Linked DNA regions of Homo sapiens. The protein of the gene in region 5 interacts with the protein of the main gene of each other region in a pairwise test. Each region holds a gene or a part of one and is shown on either strand. Other genes may lie near its edges.

Evidence for each region.
Region 1: the proteins of TMEM218 (region 5) and KIR2DL3 interact in binary tests that used the Homo sapiens proteins (3 or more experiments, as listed by UniProt).
Region 2: the proteins of TMEM218 (region 5) and TMEM234 interact in binary tests that used the Homo sapiens proteins (3 or more experiments, as listed by UniProt).
Region 3: the proteins of TMEM218 (region 5) and KCNJ6 interact in binary tests that used the Homo sapiens proteins (3 or more experiments, as listed by UniProt).
Region 4: the proteins of TMEM218 (region 5) and SDC3 interact in a two-hybrid assay, tested with the Homo sapiens proteins (one large-scale study listed by BioGRID).
Region 6: the proteins of TMEM218 (region 5) and TMED8 interact in binary tests that used the Homo sapiens proteins (3 or more experiments, as listed by UniProt).
Region 7: the proteins of TMEM218 (region 5) and TM4SF18 interact in binary tests that used the Homo sapiens proteins (3 or more experiments, as listed by UniProt).

The regions. Positions count from the first base shown.
Region 1 is NC_000019.10:54,748,513-54,751,032, reverse strand, and holds part of KIR2DL3 (killer cell immunoglobulin-like receptor 2DL3 precursor), read right to left. Parts: intron 1-2,520. UniProt on the Homo sapiens protein: Receptor on natural killer (NK) cells for HLA-C alleles (HLA-Cw1, HLA-Cw3 and HLA-Cw7). Inhibits the activity of NK cells thus preventing cell lysis.
Region 2 is NC_000001.11:32,215,700-32,219,353, forward strand, and holds the end of TMEM234 (transmembrane protein 234 isoform a precursor), read right to left. Parts: intron 1,879-3,654; exon of another isoform or gene 1,738-1,878; intron 1,653-1,737; coding exon 1,560-1,652; intron 1,426-1,559; coding exon of another isoform or gene 1,268-1,425; exon of another isoform or gene 1,249-1,267; coding exon 1,154-1,248; 3' UTR 819-1,153; coding exon of another isoform or gene 711-818; 3' UTR 501-710; downstream 1-500. Other genes in the region: DCDC2B (doublecortin domain-containing protein 2B), read left to right, coding at 103-198.
Region 3 is NC_000021.9:37,906,458-37,909,957, reverse strand, and holds part of KCNJ6 (G protein-activated inward rectifier potassium channel 2), read left to right. Parts: intron 1-3,500. UniProt on the Homo sapiens protein: Inward rectifier potassium channels are characterized by a greater tendency to allow potassium to flow into the cell rather than out of it.
Region 4 is NC_000001.11:30,874,259-30,877,758, reverse strand, and holds part of SDC3 (syndecan-3), read left to right. Parts: intron 1-593; coding exon 594-1,207; intron 1,208-3,170; coding exon 3,171-3,462; intron 3,463-3,500. UniProt on the Homo sapiens protein: Cell surface proteoglycan that may bear heparan sulfate. May have a role in the organization of cell shape by affecting the actin cytoskeleton, possibly by transferring signals from the cell surface in a sugar-dependent mechanism.
Region 5 is NC_000011.10:125,094,627-125,098,126, reverse strand, and holds part of TMEM218 (transmembrane protein 218), read left to right. Parts: intron 1-386; coding exon 387-521; 3' UTR 522-3,500. UniProt on the Homo sapiens protein: May be involved in ciliary biogenesis or function.
Region 6 is NC_000014.9:77,349,595-77,353,094, forward strand, and holds part of TMED8 (protein TMED8), read right to left. Parts: intron 2,158-3,500; coding exon 2,079-2,157; intron 1-2,078.
Region 7 is NC_000003.12:149,327,137-149,330,636, reverse strand, and holds part of TM4SF18 (transmembrane 4 L6 family member 18), read left to right. Parts: intron 1-217; coding exon 218-307; intron 308-3,500.

The DNA.
Region 1 (2,520 bases), on a different chromosome or scaffold from region 5:
AGCAACAAAAATGGACTAAGACAGCAACGTCCTGAGATCAGGAGGAACGTCTCAGAACAGCCTGGGCTGTCTTCCTGTTCTTCCTGGAGGAGGACGTCATGCAGTGCTTTAGCTGAGTGCTTCCTGTGGCTCCACAGTACAAAACCCAGGCTGGGCTGCTCTCTGGCTTCCCCCAGCTACACTGCAAATGGGGTGACTCCATATGTCCCGAGTAGCTTTTCTGAGCCTTGAGGGACTGGCTCACATTGAAATGTAGGTTTCTGTTGTCACTCGCTGCTTATCTGTTAGTAATGAACCTGCCTGTGTAATGTATTCTCTGTGTGTTCTGTCTCCCTGGAGTGACGGTGAGTGATAGGAATTGGCATAAGCCCAGGTGCAGTCCAGGAGGTATTTAGAGTCTTCTCTGGGAAGACTGCACTGGGATTGATACACAGCGAATGTGCTTTAGGATTTCTACATCCACAGCATTCTTGAATCAAACAACTTGCATTCTCCAAGAAAAGGAAACAAAAGTGAAATCAAGATAAAAAAAGCTAAGTAGAATTCTCTTATGTCAAATGGCCAGGAAATAGTGTTGAAGCCCGTGTGAAACGTGCTACTCTTTGTGATCTCGGGAGACACATGTTAGGCTGCTGTTCTACCCGAGAGGCTGGGGGAAGGACCACCCCCTCGGCCATCTATTGCTTCAATACCACCTGTCCTCCTGTGAATTAGTAGGAAAGGGGAGCAGGAGCTAGTGCTGGCACTGATCTCTGATTCCAAGATCTGGACTCACTCCAAGGAGTATCAATGTTTACCTCCCCATAGCCTATCTGAATCTCCACAGGTGATTGGAAGTAGGGGTGAGGTGGGGGATTTGGGTGAGTGGGCAAGTTTTTTGTTGCGATGAACAGAGCACTTTCTCTATTCCACGATCTGTGCTGGAGGATTCTGAGGGCTTTCACATTTTCTATGTGATCTCATTCTCACAGAAAGCCAAATAGGGAAGAGGTTTTAAGCTCATTGCCTAATGGATAAGATAAAGGATCAAAGAAGTAATTATAGAGAAATAGAAAAACGATGATTGGAATTCAGGTGCCTTTGTCATTCGTGTGTGTTTTATTATATTTATGTATTTCTTATTTTTATTTTTTGAGATAGAGTCTCCTTGTGTCCCCCAGGCTGGAGTGCAGTGATGCAATCTCCACTCACTGCAACCTCCACCTACTGGGTTGAAGTCATTCTCCTGCTTCATCCTCCAGAATAGGAGCTGGGATTACAGGGATGCACCATCGTGCTCGGCTAATTTTTGTATTTTTAGTAGAGATAGGGTTTCACCACGTTGGCCAGGCTGGTCTGGAACTCCTGACTTCATGGAATCCACCCACCTTGGCCTCCTGCAGTGCTAGGTTACAGGCGTGAGCCACTGTTCACAGACTTGTATATTATGCTATAATAAGTCTCTTCATTTCCACCACCACTCATATATCTGTCACTCCTTTGCCAGGTATTGATTTATGTGTAGGATGAATAAATCTCAGAAAGAAATTAATTAAGCGAGGATTAAACAAGTAGGAAAATCAAACCCAGTAAGCGTTTCCAGTCAATGATTCTACCTCACAAACATATCTTATATCCATCTACTTCATTCATTTAGTGTCTAAATCAGCACCACATTTCACCAGTGGGGTGGCAATTGCCTTTTCCACGGTCTCCTAGATTCCAGTTATGCAACTGAGCCTCCCTTATTTTCATGTCAGTCATATTAATCATGTAGGGATTCCTGGTTACCCCGAGGTGAATCCAATGGCTGTGAGTGTCAAACACACACTCCTTGTTGCTCCTTAGTTTCCTGTGTACCCAGTGTGCTCTCCGTCTCTCTACAGTCGTCTTGTCATTCTCCCCACATCATTCCCAGCATTTGAGGCAGAGCCTCTTCCTTCCACATCAGATTGTTTTCACCTTTGTGCCTTCACGGCTGACAGCTGTGTGTGCAAAATCCTTCCGCCAATCTTTCAGGGGTTCAATCCGTGTTTTTCATTAATGTCACAAATATCTGAATAGTGAGACCTTCTTTGTCACCTGAAATCATACACTCAGCATTATCTATTATTGATTTTGAATTCTGGCTGGGCACAGTGGCTCACGCCTGTAGTCCCATTACTTTGGCATGCTGAGACGGTCGGATCACTTGAGGTTGGGAGTTTCAGACAAGCTTGGCCAACGTGGTGAAACATCCTCTCTACAAAAAATATACAAAAAGAATTAGCCGGGCACGGTGGCAGTTGCCTGTAATCCCAGCTACTCGAGAGGCGGAGGCAGGAGAATCACTTGAATCCAGGAGACGCAGGTTGCAGTGAGCCAAGATCGTGACACTGCACTGTAGCCTGGAAGACAGAGGGCGACTCTGTCTCAATAAACAAAAGAACAAACAAAAAATAGATTTCATGCACAGATGCTTCCCAATGGATCATTCATTTATAGATCCACTTGTGCATTCATTTTCTGCCCTCCCATTTAACCATCTGCAATATCAGTGTC
Region 2 (3,654 bases), on a different chromosome or scaffold from region 5:
TTTCCAGTTTCTTCCTTCCTTGGGGTTGGGGACCTCCTGGCTGAGAGCTGGAGGCTGGCCATACTCACGGCTCCATTCTGTATGGCCTTCCACCTCCTGCAGAGGGCAGCACAGATAGTGGAAGAGGCCTTGTCCCTGGAAAACCAGCCTGGGGCTGGGGCTGCTATCTCAGCCTCAGCCCCAGCTCTGCCATCTTGAGAGCCAGCAGCTCCAGAGGGCAACTGGGGACCACTACTCTGGCCACCTTTTGTCCTTAGCCTCCAGCAGCTTGTTCCTCAGGAGCCAGCACCTCCGCTGGGCTCACAGGGTACACTGCGGCCTCCTCAGCCCTCCCCGTTCTCCTGCTCCTAAACCCACAGCCCAGCCTTCCCTTCCTCTGAGCAGAGCAGCCCTGGCTGTGGGGGCTATTTCCTTATGGGATTCTCTGGCCAGAGAAAGGAGTAGCTGACTAAGCCTGGGAGAGGGTTTGTCACAATAAAAGAATACTTACTAACCTCTTGTCTGTTTACCATAGATTTATTGACAGCTACTACTCGCCAGGTGTGCTGGAGTCAGGTGGGGCTGGGGCTCACAGCTCTCTACCTGTTTAAGAGGGGCTGGCAGTGAGGATTTCTGCCTACCTCATGGGTGGGGCAGGCAAGGCTAATAGACAGCTCATTTCCTGCATCTGCCACTCCGACGCACCTTCTTCCCTCGGTTCCACCCCTCATTCAGCCAAAGCGCTCTGACTGAGTCCCAGAGGCCTCCCGTTTGCATTTCTGGCTCAAAGTCTGCAGCTGGCCCTTTCCATGCAGCTGGAGTTCTGCAGTCCATGGAACCTGCCACCATGATAGTCCAGATCAGGCCACAGTAATGGTGGCTGGGCTGGGAGCCTGAGATGTTAGCAGGAAGAGAGCTGCTGGGGCAGAAAGGTTGCTGAGGGTGAGCGTAGAGTCTCCTGTGCTAAATCCCCGCAGCTGAACAGCACTTGAAGGTTACAAAACTCTTTCACTCTTGTTCTCTTATTGTGATCCATGAGGTAGCTGTTATCCCCATAAGAGAGGAGGAAGCTAAGGCCAGAGAGGGGAAGTGCTAGGTCCATCCGCTCACTGCCAGCACTTCATGGCCCAGGGGCTTCCTGGAGGCAGCAGAGCTGGAAGTGGGTTCGGCCCACTCAAAGGGTAGACTGTTGCCCCTGGGTCTTACTCACTGAGCTTGTGATGCAGAGTGAAATTCCTATCACGGTGAGCACCATGCCAGCAACTGCTCCTGGGATAATAGGCAGAAATCAGGAGGGTCTGAGCTCAGCCATGCCAGTAGGAGCTGGTACAGGGCTGGAGGAAGGGCTCAGATGGGGTCTGGTCTTCAATCCCAAACCCCAGCCTCTGTCTTTCTCCAGACTGTCCAGGGGAAGGGAACTCTGATGGCCACAAGGAAGCAAAACAGCTGCAGAGGAAAGGGCAGGATGGGAAAAGGCCGTGTCCTCACCCACTCTGGGGAGATGGGTTCTGGGAAGGAACTAACACAGGTATGTCGAGATCCACAGAGCTGCGTCCCGCACTCGCAGTAGTCTAACTTACGTTTTCCACCAATATCTTCTCCAAGGGCCTTCCCAACAATCAGTGTGAAGATGATAGCCAGAGAGTTACAGATGGGCACAGCCAGGGTCAGATCTGGGTGGTCAGAATGAAAAGAATGCCTGAGATGCAACAAATGCCTTTCTAGGCACAAAACACTTCCATCATCATCATTTCATACCTTTAAAAAAGGTATCAAAACCCCATCTTCCAGATGAAGTCACAGCAAATCTCAGGACTCAAACCCACATCTCCTGACTCCACGTTCAGTGCTTCCCAGGATTCCAGCATGAAGACCTGAACTCTGAGGTCTGGGACCAGCCTGGTTTGATAATGAGAATGAGGTCTTTGCACTCAAAGAGAACTCGTGAGATCTCAAGGACATCTGGACGGACAGGCAGGCACCCAAATCCCAAAGGATGAGTAGAGAGTCAGGTAACACCAAGCACAGCCACCATTTATTAAGCACATACCATGGCCTAGGTGCTTTGTGTACATATCTCAGTTTTCACAACACTGCAAGAAGGGGATTATCACCATTTTGCGTAAAAGAAACAAAGGCTCAAAGAAGTCACATAAACTAAGGCAAGTTGAGGATTTAAACCAAGGCTTGCCTGACTCCAAAGCCTGCGCCGTTATTAAACTGTGGATATAGACAGAGCAGAACATCAGATGAAGCACATTTTGTTTCTGTTTCAGCCCAAGCTCAGGCCTTATGGAGTTAAAAATAAAAAGTGTCAGAAGGAAGGAGCAGGACCTGTTCAGGACATTGGGCTGGACCTGTGGTGTGGGTAGAGGGCATCATAGCCCAGGATCTGTTCCTTAATTTTGAAGTTCCAAGGGGCTGACTGCCAATAAGCAAACTTGAAAAAGAGTAATGGAGTTGGCTGGGTGCAGGGTGGCTCACGCCTGTAATCCCAGCACTTTGGGAGGCTGAGGCGGGCGGATCACCTGAGGTCAGGAGTTCAAGACCAGCTTGGCCAACATGGTGAAACCCCGTCTCTACTAAAAATACCAAAAATTAGCCAGGCATAGTGGCGGACGCCTGTAATCCCAGCTACTCAGGAGGCTGAGACAGGAGAATCGCTTGAACCCAGGAGGCAGAGGTTGCACTGAGCCAAGATCACACCACTGTACTCCAGCCTGAGAAACAAGAGTGAAACTCTGTCTCAAAAAAAAAAGAAAAAGACTAATGGAGTTAACTTAAAATTTGTTGAGGGTAGATCTCCTGTTAAGTGTTCTTATCACATCAAAAAAAGAGCCACAGCCAGGCGCAGTGGCTCATGCCTGTAATCCCAACATTTTGGAAGGCTGAGACGGGCGGATCACCTGAGGTTGGGAGTTAGAGACCAGCGTGACCAACATGGAGAAACCCCGTCTCTACTGAAAATACAAAATTAGGCTGGGTGTGGTGGCTCACGCCTGTAATCCCAGCACTTTGGGAGGCCGAGGCGGGTGGATCATTTGAGGTCAGGAGTTCAAGACCAGCCTGGCCAACATTGTGAAACCCCGTCTCTACTAAAAATACAAAAATTAGCCAGGCATGGTGGTGCATGCCTGTAGTCCCAGCTACTTGGGAGGCCGAGGCAGGAGAATTGCTTGAACCTGGTAGGCAGAGGTTGCAGTGACCAGAGATTGCACCACTGCACTCCAGCCTGGGTGACACAGCAAGGCTCCATCTCAAAAAACAAAAACAAAAGAACAAAATTAGCCAGGCGTGGTGGCACATGCCCATAATCCCAGCTAGTGGGGAGGCTAAGGAAGGAGAGTCACTTGAACCTGGGAGGCGGAGGTTGCAGTGAGCCAAGATCGCACCATTGCACTCCAGCTTGGGCAACAAGAGCGAAATGCCGTCTCAAAAAAAAAAAAAAAAAGCACCACATACACATAAAAAAGACCAATGGACGAATCAGCTGAGTTATCCATGGTAACAAGACTCAACTGCAGACCAGATGTTCACACTGGCTCCTCAGCAAATTCTTTCCCAGCACTCCCAGGGCTCGCCTGTGTGAGGCAAAGGAGCAAACTGTCCTGCTCCTCATCCCCTGGGAGGCCCCAGCATGGAGGCATTACCCATCTAAGAAATTGATACAACCCC
Region 3 (3,500 bases), on a different chromosome or scaffold from region 5:
CACATGTCACATCAGTGTCAATGATCAATGGGAAGGAGATGTATATTTCTCCCACAGTGAAGCACTGCAAGCCGTGCAGCAACAGGTAGAGACATCTAATCTTTCAGAGAGGGAAGAGAATAATTGGAGGCAATAATATAATCCACTATGCTAACTATGTGACCTTAATCAACTTTATGCCTTGCTTTCCCTATCATAAAATAATAACAATAAGAGTAATAATAACAACATATACCTCAGAGATGTTATGAGGATTCATGTGATAATGTAAGTAAAGTTCTTAGCACAGGCCAGGAGCGGTGGCTTACACCTATAATCCCAGCACTTTAGGAGGCCGAGTCAGGTGGATCCCTTGAGGCCAGGAGATGACTTGAGACCAGCCTGGCCAAAGTGGCAAAACCCCATCTCTACTAAAAATACAAAAATCAGCCAGGTGTGGAGGCACATGCCTGTAGTCCCAGCTACTCAGGAGGCTGAGGCACAAGAATTGCTTGAACCCAGGAGGCAGATGTTGCAGTGAGCTGAGATCACACCACTGCACTCCAGCCTGGGTGAGAGGGAGACTCTGTCTCCAAAAAAAAAAAAAAAGTTCTTTGTGCAGTGTCCAGCACAAAGTAGGCACTTTAAAAATAGCAGATGTTTTTATTCATTTATTGCAATGTGGCATTAACTTCAGTTCTTGATGAGCCTGTGTATACTGTATTAATTAGAAAGTTCTTGAAACAGAAAATATCTAAATCTCACTAATTTAACAAAATAGAAGATTTCTTTCACATAAATCTAATTGGTTGATGCCGTACAAGGACCCAGGCTGAGGGACACTTTGTCATCTTTAGTACATGGCTTCTAAGATCTGCTGAGTGGTGATATCCAACTAGCAGACAAGGAAAGAGGGAGAGTAGATGATTATGTAGAAGATTTTAATGATCCGGGCCTAGAAGTAATGTATATCACTCCTATTCATATTCTATGGTCATACCTAACTGCAAGAGCAGCTGCAAATTGTAGTTCAGCTCTATATCCAGGAGGAGGGAAACTGGTAGGGTGAACACACTGGAGTCTTTGGTATGCATGCCCGATATAAATGTCTGGCAGCAAAGAAATACAGCTAATGTGAATCAGGATAGAGTAAGGCAGAGGAAATGATTTGTCCCAGTGGTGAAAAGATTCCTGGTAGAGACAATATTTCCTGGTGCCCTTGAATCATTCTTTAGTGGTGTATTTTTTTAAAATAAATTAGTTGGGATATGTTGACTTTTGGAGTAGGTGTAGATGATTCTTAACAAAAGAGATGCAAATACATATTGTTTGATTTCTGTTAGCTGATCTGTTAAAGTAGACACAAAGGAGAAAAGCCAACTTCACAACCCATGCTCAAAAGCAATGTTCTAATCTTGACAATTACACCCACATTGTGTCTAAGAATGCTGAAGAATTAGATGCTGTCTTCTAATATCTGGCACTTGCTGTTGACTAGCAATTTGCATTTTGTTTTAAATCCCCTAAATGTCCATAGGCTAGATACATGCTGTAAGTTTAGGTTGAATTAGTCTACTAATAGTCATTGTTTTCCTGAAAATAGACCATGTAATTTGTAAGCAGTGTTTGAGAACCTCTGCTTCCCTCAAGGAGAAAACTTGGAAACTAAGTTCCATACCTTTTCACTAGAAGCAAAAGAACAGCTTTAATGCCAAACTTACAACCTAGAAAAGAGAAATGTCAGGGAGAAATATCTGAGAAGACTATGAGAGGAAGAACCAGAAGAAACAGAGTGGTGATCCATAATACTTCCGGTTCTCTTACATCGTTTCCATTTCCCTAACTCAGATATCACAGCCACATACATTCATGCAGGGGAAAACATTATCAAAATGAAACAGTAAATACCAGTAATGCATGTTAATCCTTCCATGGGGCAGTAATACTGGATTAGAAAACTCTTGACCTCTTCAAATATCTTGCCATTCCAAAGTAAATAATGTCTCATAGTGGAACTTCTGTTTAATGAAGAGAATGTTTTTGAGGACAGGATTTATTTCACTGCCACATTCAATCATTTCAATTTAAAAGGGATATAATCCAACAATCTATGTGCAGAAGGGAATAGGCAGGACAGTACCTGAGTCCAAACCATGTAATATTAGAGTAGATGAAAGAATTAGGAGTGTTTTCCCTGGAGAATATGTGGGGGAGGAGGCATGATAGTTGTTTTCAGGTATCTTGATATTTGAAGATGAAGGAAGGATTATAATTGTTCTGCTGGGCTCTAAGGGATAAAAGTGGGACCCAGCAGTGGAAGCTACAAAGTGACATATTTTGGTTCAATATAAGAAAGCATTTTCAGTAGTCAGAGCGGGGCAGAGGTAATGTGATCTGTCTTCTCTGCATTTACACAGCTCTGAATTCTTTGTCACTAGAAGCATAAAGAAGCTGAGAGAGCTAGGAACTGGGGTTGGAGTGTATGTATTTCAAAGTCTCTGCAACACAGAGCACTTCTAATGGCTATGAGAGAAGCGATGCCCTTCAGGCTCAGTCAACAAATCAGACTGGACCTCACCACTCTATGGGGCCATTGCTTTATGACTGAGGGAGCCATCATTTCTCTATAAAAAAAATGAATCACATTTAACCAAAAATGATATCTCAGTCCCTACACGAACCTTGTGTCTATGAGAGCAGGTCTGGAATGCAGTAATCATATGACTAAGCAGCATCACATGACTAAGAGGAAGGGTACAGGACTCACTGCTCATGGAAAAGCTTTACCCTTGCTTTTTGTTGTCAACACACTACCTTCAGTCAAAAGACAAGGAATGAAATCTCTCTTCGGAGGTTTTTGCATCACCTTACAACATTTTCAGAGCCAAGACTCCATGACGAGTTAGGCAGAGCACACTTCAGATTTTTAGACATCTCTAACGTGCAAAATATAGTGCTACTAACATATAATTCCTCCTCTCAAGAAATCTAGTTTCAATAATGGCAACGAATGGGGTAGATTCCTTCCTCTTCAGCTGTCTCCCAAGGTCTCACCAGTCAATACCCTAAACATATTCACCCTCTTAAATTTTCATTAGCCCTCCTGGGGTGGCTGGGCCCACAGTAGTAAAGCATATAAAGAGAGGGCAGAAAGAGGACGGCAAATAAAGAACCTATGACATTATGTGTTGTCATTGGAAGAGAGGCCGCATTAGGTGGCCCTCTTTTTTAATCAGCACTCAAGGAGTGTTGGGCCCAAGCCCACACTCCACATGTCTCCTTGACTGGCCACTGTTGGGGGTCTCTGTGGACAAAAGGAGGCATCAGAGCTGATGAAAGTCAGCTGAGGTCAGTGGTTCCCATAGTGTGTCCCTGAACCAGCAGCAGCATCACCAGGGAGCTGGCTACAAATGCAAATTCTCAAGCTCACCCCCCGATCTACTGGATCAGGAACCCTGAGGACAGGGCCAATCATCTGCCCATCCCCTCCAGGGATTCTGATGCACTCTAAAGGGTGGGAG
Region 4 (3,500 bases), on a different chromosome or scaffold from region 5:
GCTGGCTGTGGCTTCTCCCTCCCCCATCCCCTACTCCCCATCTCATTTCCTCCCAAGTTCCTTCACTGTCCCGGCTTTGCGTCAGCCAGATTGCTCAAGCAGTTCCCCTGCCTCAAGGGCTTCTTTTCCCTTTTACCCTCCGCCTCTGCCTCTGGGGGAAGCCCTTAGTGTACCACCCCTGCCTTGAGCTTGTGGTAGGGGTGCCTTTGGGGTCTGACTCTTCCCAGAATGCCACTCCTGTGTTCCCCTGCAAGCCCCAGCAAGTTTTGCAGCCAGTAGCGCCTCAGTTGCTGCTGCCTGGATTCAACCTCATAGAAACTGTAGGCTGGGTGGGCAGGAATAGTCAAGGAAGGCTTCCCGGGAGAGGCGGCCCCCAGAATTTTTGACTTGGCAGAGAGAAGTTGGGGAACATCAGCAACTGACCACCTTTAGCTGGGCTGTGCCTTCCTCCTTTCTCTCATCTTTTCTGGGAAAATTGGGTAAAGAGAGGGGGTTGGGAGACCTAATCTTGATGGCCATTGCTTACCTGGGATCCTCATGCCCCTCACAACCACCCAGCTCCCTAGCTCTCTCCCTCTCCCCCACCCCCTCAGACTTCGAGCAGGAGTCGGGCATTGAGACAGCCATGCGCTTCAGCCCAGATGTAGCCCTGGCGGTGTCCACCACACCTGCGGTGCTGCCCACCACGAACATCCAGCCTGTGGGCACACCATTTGAAGAGCTCCCCTCTGAGCGCCCCACCCTGGAGCCAGCCACCAGCCCCCTGGTGGTGACAGAAGTCCCGGAAGAGCCCAGCCAGAGAGCCACCACCGTCTCCACTACCATGGCTACCACTGCTGCCACAAGCACAGGGGACCCGACTGTGGCCACAGTGCCTGCCACAGTGGCCACCGCCACCCCCAGCACCCCTGCAGCACCCCCTTTTACGGCCACCACTGCTGTTATAAGGACCACTGGCGTACGGAGGCTTCTGCCTCTCCCACTGACCACAGTGGCTACGGCACGGGCCACTACCCCCGAGGCGCCCTCCCCGCCCACCACGGCGGCTGTCTTGGACACCGAGGCCCCAACACCCAGGCTGGTCAGCACAGCTACCTCCCGGCCAAGAGCCCTTCCCAGGCCGGCCACCACCCAGGAGCCTGACATCCCTGAGAGGAGCACCCTGCCCCTGGGGACCACTGCCCCTGGACCCACAGAGGTGGCTCAGGTGAGGGTGTTGAGAAGGGACAGGGAGGAGGGCGGAGGAGGGTGGGTCAGGGGAGGGATGAGGAGGATGGGGCTGGACAGGACTGAGGACCAGGAGGCTATAGAGATGAGCCAGACAAAGTGGGGGCGAGGGGCAGGACCAAGGGACAGAGATCGGATAGGGAGGGAAGAGGGACAGAAAACGAGGGCTGGGGTGGTTGGATCCTAATGGGATGGGACATTGGTGGGGAAGGAATTGGGTGAACGTGTGCATTGGTGACAAGGGGGGCCGGGCTGAGTGTTTCGGTTGAGAGAATTAATTCAGTGGTCTGGCAGCTGGATTAGAATCTTTCCACTGCCACTTCCTAGTCACGGGACCTCAGGCCAGTCCCTGATCATTTCTATACCTCCGCTTCCTCATCTACGGAAAGGAGAAAACAATAGAATGTGTATCATTTCATTGTGAGCGTGAAGTCTCCTGACATCCACAGTGCTTAGAACAGCGCCTGGTGATGGTACAGCCAGTGGGTTCTCAGCTGCTGTCGTCATCACGGTTGTTATTATCATGGGTCTGAGGGTGGTTAAGAGCTGGTGTATGAGAAGGCATCACTCGCCTTGTGGAGGGCTGCCTGGGTGTGGGTCAGTGCTCAGCACTTTACCTGTGTTAGCCCCAGCCCTCATGCCCACCCCACGGGCAGCACTGTGGTCATCTCATTTTACAGACGAGCAACTGTGGGTGCACAGGGAGGTGAAGCCACTTCCCAAGGCTCCGCAGCCAGCGATGACAGTCAGGATTTGAACCCAGGCAGTTGGTGCCAGAGCCGGGCAGTCTCGCAGGGCCAGGGCTGCATGTGTGTGCATTTGGGATATTCTGGATGGGGCAGGGGAATTGATGGGAAGAGGATGAAGATGTCAGGAGTGCCAGGGATGGATGAATCCCAAGGACATGAGAGAGGTGGTCTGGTCCCAGCTGGGTGCACTAAGTAAGATGGAGAGGTGGGAACATGGACTGGGTGCCAGAGCCCTCTGCAGCTGGCCTCACTGTGGAAGGCCCTTGGGCCGTGGCGCTGCCTTGGGGTCAGTGTCAGTCCCTCTGACTCCCCAGCCAGCTCTAGCAGGATGCAGGCCCTTCCCTTGCCTCCTCAAGCAGCTGGGGCAGCCTGGTGTTTTCACACAGACTTGGCCAAGCAGGAAGGGGAAACAGTGATGGGGCACGGAGCCCAGGAGAAGGTGCACAGGGCCCAGGTTGCTGGAGGAGCCATTGTGCACGCTGTGTACGCTGGGGCACTGCTGCAGCCTCTTTTCAGCCTGGACATCAGGCCTGCCTTTCCATGCCCACCTTTGAAGTAGCGACATCCCTGCTCTGATGGCTCCCACAGCCCCCACTTTGGTCTCATCATTCCCAGCTCTGATCCTGCCTCCGAGTGGTGGGAGCCCTAGAGATTGTCAGTCACTGAGCTGGTTTCCGGGACACCTGCCCCTGAGGCCATCATAGTCTGCAGGTTGTGCTCTTGGACTGGCCTCCAGGCTACAGAATGCTCCCCTGCCTTAGGCATGGACTGGGACCAGGCCCACATCCATAGCATCTGCACCCAGCAGTTCCCAAACAGCTTCTCGGCAGGAATCCCCCAAGGATTGTTACTAAGGCAGCTGGAGGGGACATGAGGGGGACAGGATGTCCAGAGCAAGAACAGAGGCAGTGTGTTAGTGGTTAGAAACACAGACTGTGGAGACAGATAGATCTGAATTTTAGTTCTGTCCCCCACTTACTAGCTGTGTGTCCTTGGGCAGGTCATTTATGCTCTGAGCTGACTTCCTGCTCTGTAAACTGGGGGCATTGTTACACTCCTTCATGGGGATAGTGTGTAGCACAGTGCCTGGCATGTAGGGAGTGCTAAGTGTTAGCCCCCCAGGGCAGTAGGATGGTGGTGGGGGGTTATGCATGCATGTGTGGTTGTCCTGGGCTCATGCCACCCTCTCTGCAGACCCCAACTCCAGAGACCTTCCTGACCACAATCCGGGATGAGCCAGAGGTTCCGGTGAGTGGGGGGCCCAGTGGAGACTTCGAGCTGCCAGAAGAAGAGACCACACAACCAGACACAGCCAATGAGGTGGTAGCTGTGGGAGGGGCTGCGGCCAAGGCATCATCTCCACCTGGGACACTGCCCAAGGGTGCCCGCCCGGGCCCTGGCCTCCTGGACAATGCCATCGACTCGGGCAGCTCAGCTGCTCAGCTGCCTCAGAAGAGTATCCTGGAGCGGAAGGAGGTGCTCGTAGGTGAGGCTTGGGGTCTGGGCCAAGGGGAGCCTGGGAGG
Region 5 (3,500 bases):
TGTATGTTTAAAATTCTCCGTAATAAAATGTATTTTAGCAACAACAAAAATGAGCCTTTCTAGGACCATGCAAAAGCTTCTCATTAACTCTTTCAGGTAACAGATTTCAGAATATAAAAGAATTCATCCAGGGACTTCAAAGTGTTTACCAACATCCTAAATTGAGCCATTTGTTCCCTGTCCCTCATTAATCCCTTCTTGTGTCTCCTGCTCAGGGAGTTGAGGAAAAGATTCTTTTTTCTCATGTACAGAGGAGACTCAGGGCAGGATGTTACTGGAAGTTATACACATGAACTAACTCTTGGCCCACTCATCATGGAGTTCAGGTTAACCCAGCCAGGGTGTCTAACTGGTAGTAATTTCATTTTGATGTTTTCTTTCTCCAGATTGTGGATGACTTTTTCATTGGCCGCTATGTCCTGCTGGCTTTCCTTAGTGCCATCTTCCTTGGAGGCCTCTTCTTGGTTTTAATCCATTATGTTCTGGAGCCGATCTATGCCAAACCACTGCACTCCTACTGACCACTCTTCAGGAAAACGAAAACCTGTTCTCTCCTTCATTGTGATGACATTGATGAGCAGGAAGGCACTATTCAGAGCCTTGTTTTGACAGCCCTCATGCCTTAAGGTTAGAGGAGTATCTGTCCATCACTAAGACAAATCTCTGGAGTCCTGGCTTCCAGAAACAGGATTGCCAAATTGTCCCTGTGGGGCTAGATTCTTACCAGCTTAAGAAGGATATTGCTATCTTCTTAGTACCCGTACCTTAGGATTTCCAACTGTTTTGAAAGGGAAATAGTAACAGTGATCTGCTTAGAGTGGATTTTCACTCAAGTCCTTAGTAAGTGGATTTTGGGGAAAAAAGCACCTGGGCTTCTGGTTCTTTTTGATAATATATAAAATTATTCATTATGAGGTTGCAGTTGTTTGCAAAGGAGAGGCACTCAAATTTGAAAGGTTATTTTAATGTGATAATTTGGAAGACTTACTCAGATGTTGGTCATTGACCACTCTGTGCATATATTTCTGCAGAGCTCTGTGAAGGCAATGAGTGTCACTTCCCTCTGCTCTAATAAAGCAATAAATAATAGCTAAAGGGCTGACTTTCACTTCGAACTCTTGGCCACGGCTTTTTAATCAAGTTCTTTAGGTTTCCTTGGGATTAGAGGAAAGGTATGGAAATATTGTTTTTTGTTTTTTGTCTTGCCATGTATCTGTAGGTTTTTTTCTTCCATGATGTGGTGGGCTGTGTGTGCCTTATTTAATTACCATGAGTCCATTTTGGGGTGTCTTCACTTTTCATCTTTGTAGCCCTTTCTCCAAAGCTAGTGAGGAAGGTATATTCTCAACATCAGATATAACTCTATACCTGTCTGATCTCCCAGACCAAATGAAATTTGCATTAAATGGAGGGGCCCTGGTCAGGTTCCACTTTGGAAGTCTGATCCTGACTCCCTAGAGCCATTTGAAAAAGAATCTTCTGGCTTAAAATTAAGAACCAAGAAAACAAGTTGGAAAGAGATCACTGATGGAGTATGTGCTCTATGCCAATAGCACACTAATTCCTTTGAGGTTTAATTTATTTAATTTTTACAACGGTCTCATTTTTATCATCCCCACTTTAAAGTAGAAAAAATGGAAGCTTAAAGAGATCAGCTGACTTGCCCAACCTTCACCTAACAGCCAGTGTGCAAACCCAGGTGTGGTAGGCCCCAGGGCTTGTCTCAGAGAGAAAACACACTAGGGTTTGTGGAACTCTGATTGAGAGCTTCAGGTAGGTTAAGGCCACACTGTTCCTTCACTTTCTCTCCTCAATTCTGTTTTCAGGGTAGAGAAGTTACCCAGTCCTGCCACCCCACAGGCAACTAAGCTCTAAATTCCAAGAAGAGAGAACAGGTAACCACTGAGAGTCATGGGCTGGTGAGGGCCAGGTATAGTTATCCCTACATTGAACCATTTCCTTTATCTTACTTAGTTTGGAAAAACTTTGCAGATAAGGCTTTGTACAGAAAACTTCAAAGGAAATAGTTTCCTAATCTGGCCTAGGGCACACAGGTAAGAAAAGAAGAAACATCCTCTAAGCAGATTGAGGGAGAGAAAAAAGAATGCATAAGTCTTGAGGGAATTGAGACAAGCTGGGGGCCTCATGCTATTGTGAGTCTCCCTGCAGCCCAAGTGGAAGCTTGGCTCCTAACAAGCACAAGCTGCCAATTGTTACCTTCTTCTGAGAGCCTTGCTAAAAAAGTAACTCTGGGAAAACTCTTATAGGTTCCTGACCATGAATCCATCTTTTTTATTCCCCCCAAAAGTTATTCAACTATTAGATCAATGGATAATAACTATGAGGTTTTGGGTGACTATTTAGATGGAGGAAAGTGTATTAAGGTTGGAAACTAAATTCTATCCTTAATACTACTGTTTTCTAATTTTTGTTTTTTTGCCTGATGTAAATGAAAGGCATATATGTTAAAGATTGGCTTTAGGAAAAAAAAAAAAATACCCTGTGCAAAGTTTATTTCAGCTTGACTTGACCTACAGTCTACAGACCTGGAGTCTATAATTACCAGCTGTGGTGAAATGAATGATAGATTTCTTTCTACCTGCATACTCAATGCAGTTATGCAAAAAAAGCCCCGCAGGGTTGGGATAAGACGTAGAAGGCTGAGAGGGCTCAAAATGGATTTCACTGAGAGTTTGGCATGGGATAACCCTATAGTCAATGTCTGTTATGGTACCCTGTATGCTCATGGCCTTCTTGGAGACAGGGCTCAGAGGTCATTCCTTAAATACAGACAGAAGTCATCTTAGTGTTCAGAACCATTCTGTGATCAGTGGCCTTAGAACATGTTCCCTCTACTGTTCCCTACCCAGAGGGGATCCTGTGGCAGACTGGTGATCCCCACTGTTTAGAAGGTGGAGAGGGAGAGTAAATCTGGGTTTCTATATAAGAAAATAGGTTATTTCGTGGCGTCTTAAAATTGTATCCTGACAAAAGCTGAATTAGGAGGATACCACCCTATCCCCACAATGGAGATCACAATGGGTAATTTGTTAAGTTCCTTAAATTTTTCACTGATAAAAATGGAAGTAAAGCTACCATTCTTTGTGTACAATGTAAATTTAATGTAAAACTGCATCAGAATTACCATACCAATGTCCAGGGACTAGGGAGTACATAGCCATTCATTCTCGAATCCTGCCATTCATTCAGCATATATTGTGTGCCCGTAGGGTGTAAAGCACTAGTCCTGGTGGAGTAAGCCCATGGAAGAACTAGGCTGTAAGGTGTCTAGACTGTCTTCCTCACTGCTTCCTGGAAGGAGGGCATCCAATTTATTTTTAAATGTTTTTATTCTAACATAAAGCAATCCATTTTTTGTTCTGTTATTTAACAGAAACTTTAGTATCAACTCTATTTCATGGTTGTTGCAGTTGAAGTGTTTCTGGTTTATTTTTTGCTCAATGTGTAAAGAAACCTGCTGTGATTATTTTACAGATGAG
Region 6 (3,500 bases), on a different chromosome or scaffold from region 5:
CTTCTTTAGTTAACTGAAGACTTCCTTCCTGCAGGTTTTCTGCTGAGAGGTTTCTCAGAGGTCTGTATATAAAATGTGTGCCCCTTCCTGGCCTTGTCACTGTTTCTGCCCTTACCCAGCTTCATTTTTCTTCACTGCACCTATTACTGCCTGACATGATATGGAGCATATTTTGTTGATTGCAAGATGCACACTGGCTTTTAGATTTTAACACAACTGAAAGATAGGATGTCTTAAAAATTGATGATATCTTAAAAGTGCCGTGGGCCTGGATTGACATCAACTCTTTCCACGAGAGATTTGCATTTGCTTCTGCCAGTACTTAGGAATGCTACCAATCTGAGACTTCTTGAAATTAAGTTCTCTGTTTAGGGTTTTGTTTAATCCTCCTGGCAGAGTGAATTTAGACAAGACACTGGCTAATACCAACTGGTGGTTCCTATTCTCAGGGGAGATATTTTTTCCTCCTATGACACAGTGTCAAGTTTGAGACAATCAAGCTTCCTTGCTGTCCTTTTCTGTGTGGGGGATTTTTGTCTTTATATTTTCACTGAAGGTGCAGGTTTTTGGTATCCCAGTTGCATATGGGGGGTCTATTAGATGATCCATCTTAAGCATTTCTTCCTCTCTTGGTGGGACGTGAAAGCACAACTTACAGTTGACGGCAACTTAAGAGTCTGTGAAGTATGATGTGTAATTGTTTTCTGTCCACTTCCCCCACTAGAACATAAGCTCCCTGAGAGCAGTGATGGACTATTTTGTTCATTTGTGGTTTCTTTAGTACCTAGAACAGTATCAGGTACATGGTAGGCTCCCAACAAACATCTGTTGAATAAATATTAGCCCCAAAATATTTGTTGAATAAAAAATGAATAAGTTAATTTTTGCCTGGGAATAAAAGAGAAATTCTGGATCAGACTATCATTTATAATATTGGAAAGGTGAGACTACAACAGGCTATCTGAATCATTAGCTTGACTTACTGTGTGTGACATCTAAAATTGTCTCTTTGTCTTTGTGCATGCTACTCTGAAAAAACATGGTTCTGCTTATTTAAAAAACATATTTTAAGGCTCGGTGTGGTGGCTCATGCCTGTGGTCCTAGCTACTCACAAGGCTGAGATGGGAGGGTTGCATGGTCCAGGAGCTTGAGGCTGCAGTGAGTTATGACTGCCTACCGTGCTCCAGCCTGGGCAACAAAGCAAGACTCTGTCTCAAGAAATAATTAAATAATAAAATTATGTTAAACAGGATATGTGCCACCCACATAAATTTAATATTCACAATTAGCATTTTATGCTCTGGAGAATTAGAAAAGGGCATTTGGGGAAAGATTAATTTCAAATTATTTGATGCTGGTGATAAGCCACATAAAGGAAAAGCCTCCGCTTTAAGCTTCTGGTTTGTACTGACCTGGAGCAGGGAGGCCATCTCAAAGGAAGGGGAGAGCCTGGCCGGCAAGCCAGCCTCACTAGAAAAGATAGAAAGTTGTGCCGTTTCCATTTCCAATAGACACATAAGCATAAGAAGTAAGCCTCAGGCATCACATTCACTGGATTTTTATCTTCACTCAGCAAATGTTAGAAACAAAAGTTAAAAATTAAATCCCTGGCCCGGCGCGGTGGCTCACGCCTGTAATCCCAGCACTTTGGGAGGCCGAGGTGGGCGGATCACAAGGTCAGGAGTTCGAGACCAGCCTGTCCAATATGATGAAACCCCGTCTCTACTAAAAAATACAAAAATTAGCCAGGCGTGGTGGTGCGCGCCTGTAGTCCCAGCTACTACAGGCGTGTAGTCTGGCCACCACGCCCCGCTAATTTTTTTTTTTTTTTTTTTTTTTGGATTTTTAGTAGAGACGGGGTTTCACTGTGCTAGCCAGGATGGTCTCGATCTCCTGACCTCGTGATCCACCCGCCTTGGCCTCCCAAAGTGCTGGGATTACAGGCGTGAGCCACTGCGCCCGGCCCACATTCTTTACTTTAACTTGCCTCCCCGCTTAAAGTCACTACCTATTTCTTTCACCAGTTCCTCATCTCAGAAGATAAAACCTGTGAAAGCATTCTATCCAAAGTGGTTACCTGTGGGGTGAGGAGCAGGGTTCTGGATCGGTGGCAGAAGCCAATAAAGAGGTATCCTTGTTTTCTAGATCTTCATTCTCTAGAAAACCATAGAAAGAAAGAATTCAATATCTGAGAGGGAATACAATCATAATTATCTTGTACCTTTAAAAAAATCTAGCAATTTCAACCAAATTCTTCCCAAAAATATTCTGGTATGAACTTTATACTCTCAGAGGCCCAACACATAAATTATTCAAGTCATCACATCCAAGTATTCTCAGACAGTCATATCTCATTCATAAAAAATAAATCATTTCTAAAACAAGGCTCCAAAAATTAATCCTAATTTAAGAATCATATTTCTGCCAGGTGAAGTGGCTCACACCTATAATCCCAACACTTTGGGAGGCCAAGGCAGGAGGATTGCTTGAGACCAGGAGTTCAAAACCAGCCTGGGCAACAGAGCAAGACCCTGTCTCTAAAAAAAATTAAGGCCAGATGCAGTGGTTCATGCCTGTAATCCCAGCACTTTGGGAGGCTGAGGTGAGTCAGGAGTTCAAGACCAGCCTGATCAACACAGTGAAACCCCATCTCTACTAAAAATACAAAATTAGCCAGGCATGATGGTGCACACCTGTAATCCTAGCTACTTGGTAGGCTGAGGCAGAAGAATCACTTGAACCCGGGAGGCGGAGGTTGCAGTGAGCAGAGATCACACCATTGCACTCCAGCCTGGGCAACAACAGCAAAACTCCGTCTCAAAAATAATAATAATAAATTTTAAAAATTAAAAAAAAAATAGGGCCAGGCACGGTGGCTCACACTTGTAATCCCAGCACTTTGGGAGGCCGAGGTGGGCGGATCACTTGAGGTCAGGAGTTCGAGACCAGCCTGGCCAACATGGCGAAACCATGTCTCTACTAAAAATATAAAAATTAGCCGGGCATGGTGGCACGCAGCTGTAATCCCAGCTACTCAGGAGGCTGAGGCAGGAGAGTCACTTGAACCCAGGAGGTGGAGGTTGCAGTGAGCTGAGATCACACCACTGCACTCCAGCCTGGGCGACAGAGCGAGACTCCAACTCAATTAAAAAAAATTAATAAAAAGAAAGAAATCATATTCCTCAGAAAGCAGATGGTTAAATTAGGCAGAACATAGAGGGCAGAGTGGGATGTAAGATAAACTGAATTTAGCATCAAAGTATAAAGTGTCACTTCTACATTCAATAAGCTCAGATCAATGTACCCAAGGTCAGGTAAAGGACTTTTGTATTTTCATTTATTTATTCAATCACTCATTTACCAATGATTTACTGAATAACTAGGTGCCCTCAAGGAGTATATAGGTGAAATGCATAATGAAGGCCATGTTCTCAAGCTCAAAAGAAGCCTATGTATGGCTGGTCTTATCACAGCCATTTTTGCAGTAAGGAACTTAAGG
Region 7 (3,500 bases), on a different chromosome or scaffold from region 5:
ACTCAAAATGTCACATATATTACCTCGTGACGATCTCTTGATACCATTTTATACAGAAGGTGTCTCAAATTCACACAGCTAGAAAGTGACAGAGCTTGGATTCAAATCCATATCTACCTGACCCCAGACTCTATGCTTGAAGACGCTGTCCTCTGATTATAAGCACAAATGTAAACTAGCATTTCATTGCTAACATTTTATGTCTTCCCTCCTATAGATGCTTATAGTAACAACAGTTCTTCTGGTACTGGAGAATAATAACAACTATAAATGTTGCCAGAGTGAAAACTGCAGCAAAAAATATGTGGTAAGAGCAACAGTTTTTTTGAGGATGGTTGAGTGGGCTCCAGCTTTCTTTCCTCTCACTCAGAAACACAAAAATATTGACAGTATTATACCCTCACTACTGTTGAGTACAGTACAGAGATCAAGAGTTTACTGCCAAGATCATCTTCCATTTTGCTTAGTCTTTCCTCCACTTTTGTTCTACTGATGCACTTTCAGAAAATCAGCATTTAAAGATACCTAAAATTAGGAAATAATACTTTTTTTTCCTAACTAAGTTTCCATTAGTCTATTTTTTCTTTACAAACTTTATTGAGGGCTAAATTACATATAATAAGTGGCATCCATTAAAATTATGCAATATCATGAGTTTTAACAGTTGACTACACTCATGAAACCACCATTGCAGTCAAGATAACAGAATATTTCTGCCAACCCCCAAAGATTAACCTTTGATTTACTTTTTGTCATTATAGATTAGTTTGTATTTTATATATGTGGAATCATACAATATTTGTCTTTTTTATCTGGGTTTTTTCATCCAGGATAATAATTTTTAGATTCATCCATATTGTTGGGTGTATGTGATGTGCATTTTCTAAGTTGGCACTTGAAAAATAATTAAAATAGTATCAGGGTGAATAATACAACCGCATTTTCTAAGCCAGTGCTCCTGCATTTCTACCATTCTCCTTCTCATCCTCTTCCTCCTCTTCATCGTTTATTCACACTTGCATAGCACTTTATAGTTCTTTCACATTTACTCAGTGAATTAAGTCATTATTGCTCCTATTTTATAGATGAAGCACTTGTGGCTCAAAGAGAACAAGTGATTATTAGCTAGGAGGAGTTTTATGATGATATCTGGTAGGCATTTTTTGCAGCAGTGCTTCTACCTGTTAGCTTCATATTGCAATCACCTGGGAGCTTGGAACAACACTAATGCCTAAATCCCATCCCCAGAGTCCCTGATTTAGTTAGTCTGAGGTACAACCTGGGCATGGATATGTTTTAAATCTCCCCAGGATATTTCAATGCGTAGTCAAGATTGTATGGCAAATTTTCTTTGACCAATGTCTTTTAAAAATTAAATTCGTTGCTTTATTTAGTACTGTGTCCCTTATGGAGAAGAATTGAAAATTTAAAATACACTCGTGTGTGTGTGTGTGTGTGTGTGTGTGTGTGTGTGTGTGTGACCAGTTGACTCAGTCATCCTCCAGTAGCTACTTGTAATATACTTATGGAAGAGATTTCAAAATTGCCTAGGGGAAATAATAAATTCAGGTATAGATTCAAGTTATGATACTCAGAGAATTTCTAGAAAACAAATATATGTGATATTAAGTGTAAAATAAAAATTCACATGTTCAATTTGCCTTAACTCACTATTAGCACTTCTAGCACAAATAGATGCTAGAAATAGTCTGAAAAGGGTCTTATAATCAGCATTAAATTAGATGACTAACATCTCATTGGGAACAGCAGGAGAAAGAAAGAGAGGATTCTCCGGGTTCCCTTTTTGGCCTTTTCAAGGTAAGTTCTAGAAGAGAAGTCCCAATTCAAATGCCCCCAGAAGCCACGTGTGTGACATAAATGAATTAAATGAGCCTGGTAGGCATCAGAGCACAATTTCCATCTAAGGAGGAGAAGGAGCTGCTACTGAAGTCCAGCCAGTTGTTGCCATGATCAAGTAGGGCAATAATTCTCAGTTTTCAGTAGAAAGTAAAAATATGGATTTTTATGTAAAACTTTTCAATTGTAAAATATTGGCAATTAATCTTCATTTAAACCAAACAAAGTACATATTGTGGGAAAAACTGAATCTGCATCAGTTTGTAACTTCCAAAATGTAATAAAAATTGATTCATTTCTTGGTTGTTATCTGCTATGGCCTGAATGTGTTCCTCCAAAATTCACATGGAAACCTAATTCTCACTGTGGCGATATTAAGAGGTGGGATGTTTTTGGAAGTGACTAAGTTATGATGGCTCTTCCCTCATGAATGAGAGTGGTGCCCTTATAAAAGGGGTTGAGGGGAGTACTCTTACCTCCCTTGCACCATGCGAGGACACATAGAAGGTGCCATTTATGAGGAATGAGCCCTCACCAGACACTGAATCTGCCAGTGATCTTGGACTTTCCAGCCTCCAGAAGTGTGAATAATAAAATTCTGTTATTAATTACTCAGTCTAAGGTATTTTTATTATAGCAGCAGGAACTAAGGCACTCTCCATTCCTGCATGGAGTCTGGTTTTCTGCCAAAATTCTTGGACAATTATTCCTGGAAAGCAAATATTGGCCAAATAAGGGCACTTGAAATAATAGCTAATATTTTATTATATTTTATTTTTGAAATTGCCCTGTCACATAGGTACCATTCCTGTCTACATCATCTACAGTTTACAGAAAAGAAAACTATGATTCAAATTCTTATTCCCACTTTATTTTGAGGCTTACCTTGATAGTGCAATGGTATCCACTCATTAGATTGTAGTGTGTGCGTGTGCATGTGTGTGTATGCTATGGCTGCCAGTTTCCCCCAATGAAGAAATTCTTCACTGATCTTCCCAGTGAATATTTTTTCCAGTTTTCCATAAAGAGGATATATTAATGTCATACTCAGTGAAATAATTTTAAACAAAGAAATGTTATTGAGATGATTTTTATTCCTAAAATCACAGGTTTGTTGGTCTTACTTTTTCTGGTCTCAGCTTTTGAATTTATTATCAATTGGTTACTGCATGTTACTATTCTGCTGCCTACTCTCACCCTGCAATCAACATTTCTAAAGCTAATTTTTCCCCCAAACCAAATAACCTTTCTTGGTATCCTTATTTCTGTCTCCTTTTTATCCAAGCCCCAGCTCTGGATTTTTTTTTTTTTTTCATCTCCAGCTACTCATTTCCTCCTTAATGTGTTTTCCTCCAATGTGTGTCTTTGTCACCTCAACTTGCATCTGTCTCCAAGCTGGATCCTTATCTTTGAGGTCTCTTACTTCCAGCTTGTGTGACCACTGCCAGAGCAATCTTCCAAAAGCACATTTTGGGCATATCACTTCCTGCTCAAAAACCAATTACAAGACTTGTTTAAAAAATAGTTTCTGGCCGGACACAGCGGCTCATGCCTGTAATCCCAGCACTTTGGGAGGCCAAGGCAGGTGGATCCCCTGAGGTCAGGAGTTTGAGAGCAGCCTGGCCAACATGGTGAAACCCCAT